3 separate regions of the Homo sapiens genome follow, and all the other regions are reported to be linked to region 1. The links are microRNA targets in miRTarBase. Many come from high-throughput screens and were not tested one by one. Region 1 holds a microRNA gene; each other region holds the end of a gene's coding sequence.

What was found. Region 1 holds the annotated microRNA hsa-miR-548d-3p (CAAAAACCACAGUUUCUUUUGC, at 1,746-1,767, shown strand). A microRNA usually pairs through its seed, bases 2 to 8, with sites in the 3' UTR of a target mRNA and lowers its output. Matches are read on the target gene's strand: a 7mer-m8 pairs with bases 2 to 8, a 7mer-A1 pairs with bases 2 to 7 and ends in A, and an 8mer does both.
Region 2: the mRNA of RHOB is a reported target of hsa-miR-548d-3p. Seed matches in the 3' UTR shown: 7mer-A1 at 1,540-1,546.
Region 3: the mRNA of UNC93A is a reported target of hsa-miR-548d-3p. Seed matches in the 3' UTR shown: 7mer-A1 at 2,515-2,521.

The regions. Positions count from the first base shown.
Region 1 is chr8:123,346,464-123,349,815 of GRCh38, reverse strand. It overlaps MIR548D1 (microRNA 548d-1), which reads left to right and starts at 1,686; the gene lies at 1,686-1,782. It overlaps ATAD2 (ATPase family AAA domain containing 2), which reads left to right. Exons shown (of 28, transcript NM_014109.4): 14 at 372-531; 15 at 1,543-1,633; 16 at 2,410-2,724; 17 at 3,066-3,198. It overlaps MIR548AA1 (microRNA 548aa-1), which reads right to left and starts at 1,782; the gene lies at 1,686-1,782.
Region 2 is chr2:20,447,563-20,450,562 of GRCh38, reverse strand. It overlaps RHOB (ras homolog family member B), which reads right to left. Exons shown (of 1, transcript NM_004040.4): 1 at 1,123-3,000. The coding sequence ends at 2,507. Among named protein-coding and RNA genes, the nearest start is that of RHOB, 2.0 kb to the right of the region's middle. RefSeq lists an enhancer at 1-362.
Region 3 is chr6:167,315,296-167,318,295 of GRCh38, reverse strand. UNC93A (unc-93 homolog A) reads right to left here. Exons shown (of 8, transcript NM_018974.4): 8 at 2,282-3,000. The coding sequence ends at 2,844. Among named protein-coding and RNA genes, the nearest start is that of TTLL2, 8.3 kb to the left of the region's middle. RefSeq lists an enhancer at 831-1,626.

The DNA.
Region 1 (3,352 bases):
CTCTTCCCACCTCAGCCCCCAAGTTCTGGGGTTACAGGCGTGAGCCACCATGCCTTGCCTTTTTTTTCTTTTTGATGTTATATATTGTTTGAGAACTCTTAAGTTCCTTTGTGAAATTATGCTTTATAAAATGTCTTCTAGGATTCATTTGTGGGGGGTCTAACAACCGTCTGTTTTCCATTGATTTCAATTTCTGTGGGCCATTTGGGATGTTATTTTATAGATTTTTTTAATCCATTGGAAATAGTGAGGTGCCCTGAGAAAATTTATTCACATGTAATGCGTTAAATCTTACAAAAGAAGAAATATTACTGAATGATATAGACTGTGTTCATAGTATTAATCTCTTCTCTCTTATTTTTAAAATTTAGTTCTATTGTTTCCACCCTGCTAGCTCTTATGGATGGATTGGACAGCAGAGGGGAAATTGTGGTCATTGGTGCTACGAACAGGCTAGATTCTATAGATCCTGCTTTACGAAGGCCTGGTCGCTTTGATAGAGAATTCCTCTTTAGCCTGCCTGATAAAGAGGTAAGAATTTAATGTCACTCAAATTTTGACAAAATATATTGCTGTTTATTAATAATAAGTCTTGGTATAGTAAAAATTTGGAGATTCTTGAGTTTTGTATCATGGTCTTGTCAAATGATAGTAAACAACTCAAATGGGGACAAATTTTTATTCTTTTCTTTAAATATAATAATGCCTTCCCAAAATTACTCTTAAAATTATTTCAATTTGAGTGTAGCCTTTGGATGTTCTAAGTGTTGCTTCAGAACATATGGCTTAATGAGTAATCAATCCTTAGCCAGTTTGTTAGCCTTGTCTTTTTCATGAATATCATCATATAATCCTACCGAGTTTTTTTAAGTCTACTTAATCTTCTGGGAACCAAAGAGGAAAATATGTCAAGAGCTGTCTGTACTCTTAAAAACAGCTCTTAATATGCACCAGAATGAATAGCTACTTTAGTAGTTACTTTTCTCTTATTTGTGTTTATGACGAATATAACTTTAGTGCTATAAATGCAAATATGTTTAATAATGAGACTTAAGTTCATTAAACTCTTAAAAGTACATCCTTTTTCTTATTTTCACTTTCATATTTTGCTTATATTGAGTTTTTTTGGTTGGTTGTTTATGATAAAGTCTTGCTCTGTCACCCAGGCTGGGGTGCAGTGGCACAATCTCAGCTCACTGCAACTTCCGTCCCCGGGATTCAAGCAATTCTCGTGCCTCAGACTCCCAAGTAGCTGGGATTACAGGCACATGCTACCACGCCCAGCTAATCTTTGTATTTTTAGTAGAGAGTGGTTTTCACCATGTTGGCCAGGCTGGTCTTGAACTTCCAACCTCAAGTGATCCACCTGCCTCGGCCTCCCAAAGTGCTGGGATTACAGGTGTGAGCCACCGCACCCGGCCAGTATTAAGTACTGATCACTTTAAAATTTTAGATAATCAAAAGTATTTTAATCAAAATTAATGTAATCTGAATAGCATTTATTATTATAGTTGTAAAAAATTAAATTGTTTTTATTCATAGGCTCGAAAAGAGATTCTAAAGATTCACACCAGGGATTGGAATCCCAAACCACTGGACACATTTTTAGAAGAGCTAGCAGAAAACTGTGTTGGTAAACATTGTTTTAAGCAGTTAAAATAAATACTACATTTATTTCAAATATGAAACAAGTTATATTAGGTTGGTGCAAAAGTAATTGTGGTTTTTGCCTGTAAAAGTAATGGCAAAAACCACAGTTTCTTTTGCACCAGACTAATAAAGAAATACAAGGTTATATTTGTTTCTTATCTCTTATTTGTGGCATTTTCTTCTCATGAAGTCTTGGTATTAAATAGAGATATTTGACAAATTGGCCATCAGGGGCAGAGTAGATAATAATATAATTGTACAAAATACAATATATTATTATATCATAATAAGATAATAGCTATTCTTTACTGACCATTTTGTAGTCATCCTTTTAAGCATTTTACATATATTATTTCATGTAATTTTCACATCATTCCTGTGATGTAGGTAGCAGTATCTCTACAGATGAAGAAATGGCTGGAGAGCATTATGTGAATCTTCTAAGGTCATACAGCTAGTAAATTACAAACTGGAATGTGAATCTAGTCTGTGTGATTTTAAAACTCTTGCTTTTGACCTCTGTGCTATACTTAGTGCTTGTGTATTGCACTCTTAAAAGTTGATTGATTGTTGATGGCCATTACTACCCTATAAGTTTACTGGGTAAAAGAGATTTTGGTCTTATTACTCTTAAATATTTGCTAACTATATTCCGAGGCTGATTTTTAATTTTTTTTTTAACCATGGTCATGCTAATAGAGTTTTGTGTTTCTTTGTTTGGTCGGCTGGTTCTTTTCTTCCCCTGGTTGCTTTGGATAGGATACTGTGGAGCAGATATTAAATCAATATGTGCTGAAGCTGCTTTATGTGCTTTACGACGACGCTACCCACAGATCTATACCACTAGTGAGAAACTGCAGTTGGATCTCTCTTCAATTAATATCTCAGCTAAGGATTTCGAGGTAGCTATGCAAAAGATGATACCAGCCTCCCAAAGAGCTGTGACATCACCTGGGCAGGCACTGTCCACCGTTGTGAAACCACTCCTGCAAAACACTGTTGACAAGATTTTAGAAGCCCTGCAGAGAGTATTTCCACATGCAGAATTCAGAACAAATAAAACATTAGACTCAGGTATAAAACTTGATTGACCATTTAAAGTTAGTTTTTATAATCAGTAAAGTGAAATGTTTCATACATACCAGAAATATTTATTTGTAAAAGAATCTCTTGAAAAGAATTTGGTAATGCTTTACCTGGGATATTTGAAGGAAATTTACTCCATGGATTGCCCTTAATTTAACTTATTGTAAGTTTGGGGTGCATTTTTACATTTACTTATTAATTCATATCTACACAAATATTTTTGATTCTTTGAAAAAATTTAATTGAAGTATGCTGACTTGGTAACTGAAGCAATAAAGATTTGCTTTGCAATCCAAAAGTTACTAATGTACAATTTTTTGGTTTTATAGATATTTCTTGTCCTCTGCTAGAAAGTGACTTGGCTTACAGTGATGATGATGTTCCATCAGTTTATGAAAATGGACTTTCTCAGAAATCTTCTCATAAGGCAAAAGACAATTTTAATTTTCTTCATTTGAATAGGTATATTTTTCTTGCAAATCAATGTTTTTTGCATGTGTAAATTTTCTAAAAATAAATGAGATGTGGTTGAAAAAATAAAAAGTGCTAACCAATCTGCTTTTTATTTAAATTAAACTACCAGAAATTTTTTGTTGTTACAGTTGTCACAACAGTA
Region 2 (3,000 bases), not on the chromosome of region 1:
AGTTACTGCCAGCATTTAAGTGGGTGAAAGGTCACCACCAACCAGGTTTTATTCACTCAACAAAAGCTCTTGGAGTCTGGGGTAAGACCAGGAAACAGAAGCCTCAAGCTTTGAAGCAAACAACTTCAAAGGAGACCTCCACCTTTGTCCTGGGAATGGGGAGGAGGGGGAAGGAGAAGGTGGCAACTAAGTGCTAGAAACCCAGAAAATGCTGATTCAAAAAAAATGAAAACCACACTTCTCAGGCAGTTGACACTCTCAGCTACCTTCCCTGGAAGCTGCGAGAGCTGGCAGGTTTGAACCATCATGCCTGCAGCAGAATTTTAATGTGGTCTCCACCTATAAATCAGCCCGTCTGGTTCTAAGAACCATTACAGCAAAGCTAAGTGTCTACGATTAGAGTTTATCATGACTCTCAAAAAGTGGCAGCTCCAACTTTAAGAACCACCAAAACATCCAATGTTCTTTCCACAATATGGCCCTTCTCTGAACTTAGAATAAATCATTCTAGGTTACTTAATAAAGGACATATTGGGATCAAAGCTTGATAATTTTAAAAAATCACCTCTTTATCTGAACTCCCCCACTTCTGGAAGCTCCAGGCCCAAAGATAACAACCTACAACTTCCTGGGATATTGTGTAAACCCCTTGATGGCCTGAAGGGAACCCAGTAAACAGGCTTCCTGATAGCGTGACCCCACACCAACGATTAATAAAGGTTTTCTAAATTTAAAATGCACAAATGATAACTTTCCAAGACTCAAAGAATAAGCAAAGCCCCATAATAGACTTAAAGACACAAGTGTTTTTAAGACACACAGATGAATGAAATCAAGATCTTCGGTCTCACCCAATTGAACTGAGTACATAATAGGTCAAAAGTTTTTGCACTGGGTGTCGGGGTATCCACTCATCTTCCTCTAGGAATGTGACAGGAACAACCTGGTCTCCCTTGGTCACCCAACCCCCACATGCTCTCAAAGGGACTTCATCCTCATTTACTACATTTGCTATAAGGGAAACGGAGTTGGCAAGAAAGGATCTCGCCTAGGAGAATATCTCCCTTGTTCCAAATTCACAAGGGTATTTTTACACACTATTAAACCACAAGAGCCATTTTATAAATGTCATCATCATAGTCTTTTAATATTTTACATAAAAAACTGTATACACAGCTTATAGAACTTTTATGTAAACATCATAAGCTCACCATTTTGTCATTTGTCAGTTTATTTAAAAAATAAAAAACAAGACAACAATTTAGTAGAAGTACCACTGGGAGGGAGGGGAGGGGAAAAAAGGATATACAGGGGCAGGTGTATTCTCTGTACAGAGGTGCAGAGAAAATTTCACATAGCTTTAGAGAATGCCTTGTGGAAAAAAAAAAAATAGGCCCCAATACTTGTTACTGCCCTTTATCAAAACTGTGTGCATGACCTGCACAAATAAAATCACAAAACAGTGTTGCCACATTCTTCAAGGAAACAAAGCAAAATTTAGTGGGTTTCTTTTCCCTCTCCTTGTTAAAAGTCATTTTTTAAAAACATCAGAAGTAGATGAGGTTACAGCGTACAAGTGTGGTCAGAATGCTACTGTCGTATGCAAATGACGAGTGCATTAAGTGTCAAACAATGAAACAATTGTGCAAAGAATAAAAAAACAAATTTTAGCCTTTAAATAAATCAAATAACATCAGTTTCTTGGACTGAACAATTTTCACTTCTAGGACAGGCACAAAGTTCGCTTATGGCAAAAACAACCCCACAGCGCATCCTCCCTCCTCCCTCCGGTAGCTGGTGGAGGGTTCGCAGCGGGCTGGCCCGCAGGAGAGGCTGTGCTGAAGCTGTGTCCTCCCCAAGTCAGTTGCAAATGTCTTCCCCAGGGGTTGGAAAGATGGTCAAGTCCTGTTCATGCTTGGGCGGGAGTCTGGCCCAGCCTGGGCCAGAGCGCTCACCCATCACCACCCTTAAATAACACCATCTTAGCTCCGAAAATAAAATTATATCTATATTTATATAACATCCCCCCATCCTCCCCAGCAGCCCTCCCCTCCCGCAGTACCCGGGGTCTATGTTACAGACAAGGGATATCAAGCTCCCGCTGGTGAAGGGCGAACATCTGATGGGGCGCGGCCACACTCCCGCGCCAATCTCGCCCCCGGGGATCAGAGGCGGGGGTGGGGTGAAAATGGGGCGAGGGGAGTCGAACAGACACACAGCCACACACTCTGAGGCCCGGCTCTTCAGAAAAGCATGCTCAGGGGACCCTTGGCACTCAGTGGGGAGCCCAGGCCTGTGCAACACAGCTGGACGCACACAGACACTGGGATGGGGGCGCCCGGTGCCCACGCCAAGTCCTGGCGCAAGCCAGAGGCGTCAGCAGACAGATGCCAGGCAGGCCGGTGGGGTCCTTGTGGGACACGGGTCTCCCCTTCTCCGGGCTCGCGGGGGACTGGTCCAGGAGGGGGAGCCGTGCCGGCAGGGGCAGGCGCGACGGGCGCGGCCCTCATAGCACCTTGCAGCAGTTGATGCAGCCGTTCTGGGAGCCGTAGCGCTTCTGCAGCGCGGCGCGCGTGGCCGTCTCGAAGACCTCGCGCACGCCTTCCTTGGTCTTGGCAGAGCACTCGAGGTAGTCGTAGGCTTGGATGCGCACGGCCATGGCGCGGCCGTCATCCGTGCGCACGGGTTCCTGCTTCATGCGGGCCAGCTCTGTGCGGACATGCTCGTCGCTGCGCAGGTCTTTTTTGTTGGCCACCAGGATGATGGGCACATTGGGACAGAAGTGCTTCACCTCGGGGACCCACTTCTCGGGGATGTTCTCCAGCGAGTCCGGGCTGTCCACCGAGAAGCACATGAGAATGACGTCGGTGTCCGGGTAGGAGAGCGGCCGCAGGCGGTCGTAGTCCTCCTGGCCCGCCGTGTCCCACAGCGCCAGCTCCACCTGCTTGCCGTCCACCTCAATGTCGGCCACATAGTTCTCGAAGACGGTGGGCACGTACA
Region 3 (3,000 bases), not on the chromosome of region 1:
TTCTGAACGGCCGGCTGGAGCCACGCAGATGCACACTGGTTTGGACAAATGCACATGCACTCCCCAACTCCTCTCACCTCTGGGTCCTCCCCTCCAGCCTTAGGCCCAGGGCTCACTCCTTAGTGCCCCCCACACCTCATGAGCAGGCCTAGTTCATTGTCTCCAAGACATTCTGCAAAGGCCTCACTACCCCCGAAGGTCTAAGGAGTTCCTACTGACTTAGGGTCTACAGGGTTCAAAATGCTCTGAGCAGACTGAGAAACCAAAGACCAGTTCCAAATAAGACTTATCCTGAGGAGCACCAGGAGTGCCCATCATCAATTCACAAAATCCTAAACCTCCAAATGGAGGGGACATGACATGTCACCTTACCCTCGATGAACGCCCTCTACACAAATACCCTAGCCAGTCTTGACTCCTTTTGACATGACCCTGTTGTGGGAGCTGCAAAGACCATCATGGATCCCACAAACAGGCATGGCGCTGGGCAAGACGGCCATGGATCCCACAGACAGGGATGGCACCAGGCAGCCCGTGGTGCAAGGCAGGAAAGGGGAGGACAAAGCAGGGCAGGGATTAGAGAGTGCAGAGGCCCAGCTTTAGGAAGATGGTTGAAGCCTGCAAAGAGTTAACGGCATTCCACTGGGTCTGGGAGGATAAACGTGGTTTGGATAGAGACACAGGGACAGCATGAGCGAAGGGCCCATAAGGGAAGGACCTCGGTATTTAACAGAAGCATTGGACAGAGAAGTCTGGTGAAACGGACGGAAGGCTAGAGAGGCAGCTGGGATTAACTCACGGAGGCCTGGACTGTCCCGGCCAGTGGGTAAGACTGTGCTCTTTAGATGGGCGCTGGAGGTGAAGTGTCCTGTGTTTAGTGAAATCCCTCTCTCAATAGCCCGGATGGAGGATAAGAGGAGCCCTGCAGGGAGGACAATGAACCAGGAAGCAGCCGACAGGGAATGGAATGGAGGCAGAGGATCGACAGGGAATGGAATGGAGGCAGAGGATCGGCAGCCTGGGGGAGGAATGGCAGGGCCTCCTCCCTGATCAGCCAGGCCAGGGACAGAGTGGCACATAAAGGGCACATGAGCCTGGGTAACAAGAAGAAGGCTGCTGGTGGTCAGAGACACTGGGCTATCAGGGGAATTCTAACAGTTGGGAGAAAATGCCCAGCTCGTCGTGGGGAAGCTTGAGAGGTAACATTTGAGAGGCCAGGAAGCATTAGCTCGTGGCAGCTGCACTTTTCTCTGCCTTTGATCATCGCCCGTCTGGGCACCTGGCTGACACTGACTAGAAGGAGAAAGGGCCAGGGCCAGGAGGCATTTGCTCCCCCTCCCATGGCCAGAGGCAGCCAGCATCCTAATGAATGAGGGTGAGTGAAGGAAGTATTTGGAATTTCACAGAGAGGCCCATTTCCTTCTGCACATATGAAGCACCTGCTAGTGCTGTGTACTAGACACTGGAAAGCTGAATTTCCAGGAGGAGGAGATGCTCGTAGAAACAATAAACGAACAACATGCAGCGGGAGAGCCACAGACAGGACACATAAGGTCTAGAAGAAGCCTCAGTGTGAACCAAAGGGGAAGGGGAGGGGGAGGAAGAGGAAGGGAAGGGGAAGGAAGCAGCTTAGGGTTAAAGGACAAAAGAGATCCCAAGCTCCAGGCCCACAGGCCAGGGAGGTCCCAGGAGTGAGGGGGTGGGGGGGGGGGTCCAGGGTGGGCGGGGCAGGTCCAGGAAGCGAGGGTGGTGGGGGGGGGCAGGGAAGGCGGTTGGCGGGGGTGGGGAGGGCACGGGAGTGGGGGAAGGGTGGGGGGGTGCCAAGGAGGGTAGGAAAGGGGCCAGGAAGGGGTCTGGGGAGGGGTGGGGGGGGCAGGGGTAGGGCCGGGGAGGGTGGGTTGTGGGAGAGGATGAGCGGGAGGCGGGAAGGGGCTGGGCAAGGTGGTGCTAGTAATGGGGGAGGGCTGGGGAGGGCCTGGGGACCTGAGTGCAGTGGACAAGGAAGAAGCCTTGGAGATGGGCAGGCGGCAGTGCTGCTAGGAAGAACAAGGGAGAGAGGAGACCAGGTGCCAAGGGACAAGACGATGACTGTGAGATGGGCAAATATCACCCAACCCGTGCCCGGCACCATTTTCCATGTTAACAGACACATGTAGCATCTTCACCTGAAATGCTCTCGAAGGTCTGCGAAGGCCACAGCACACTAAAGCACTGATGTGATGAAGCGTGTGTGTGTGTCTATGTGAGTACTTAGCACAACAGTACTTGGGCAGGAGGTAAGTCCATTAAATAACCGTCTTTATTTAGAAACGCAGACCCCACACGTTTCAGGAATCCTGAGCCCCAGTCTGGCTTTGTCACCCCCTGACTCTGTGAGGTTGAGTCAGCTGACTTGTCAGGACCCCTTTGTAAAATGTATGAGGTTTTGATCCAAGTAGAGTTAGAAGTTTAAAAGTTCGCCCATTTGTAAAATTATGGGGCTCAACTACATTTTTTAAGCAGGCTTCCAATTCTTAAAAACAACTACAGCAATAAAACTAGGGTGAGTCTATGATTTCAGGCAAATTCTAATTGGCTGATTGTACGTTAGACCTTTTTCTTTTGCATCTAAAATTAAATGAACTGATACCTTCATGTATACACTTGATCTCTGTTAAGATGGTGGACGAAAAATTTGTTAGAATAGAAAAAAAATACATGAAGAGTGAAATAACATGATCTCTTCAGAATGGCCAAATTGTGCTGAGATGGTGATGAGGAGCCGCTCTATGTCCTGAGGCATCTTCTAAGAAAATTCTCTGGCTGGTGCTTTCTGAGTTCATCCTCCTCGGACCTCACTGCTCTCACATTTTTGTTTGTATTTCTTCATCCTCTGCCTGGTTGACCTGTCCTGGAGCGTGGGGTCTGATCGGGTTCTTGGACTCCACGCACTCCACAAGCCCATACGCCACCATGGTCAGGCTCAGGACCCCCAGCAGAATGTAGAGCTTGACGTGCACG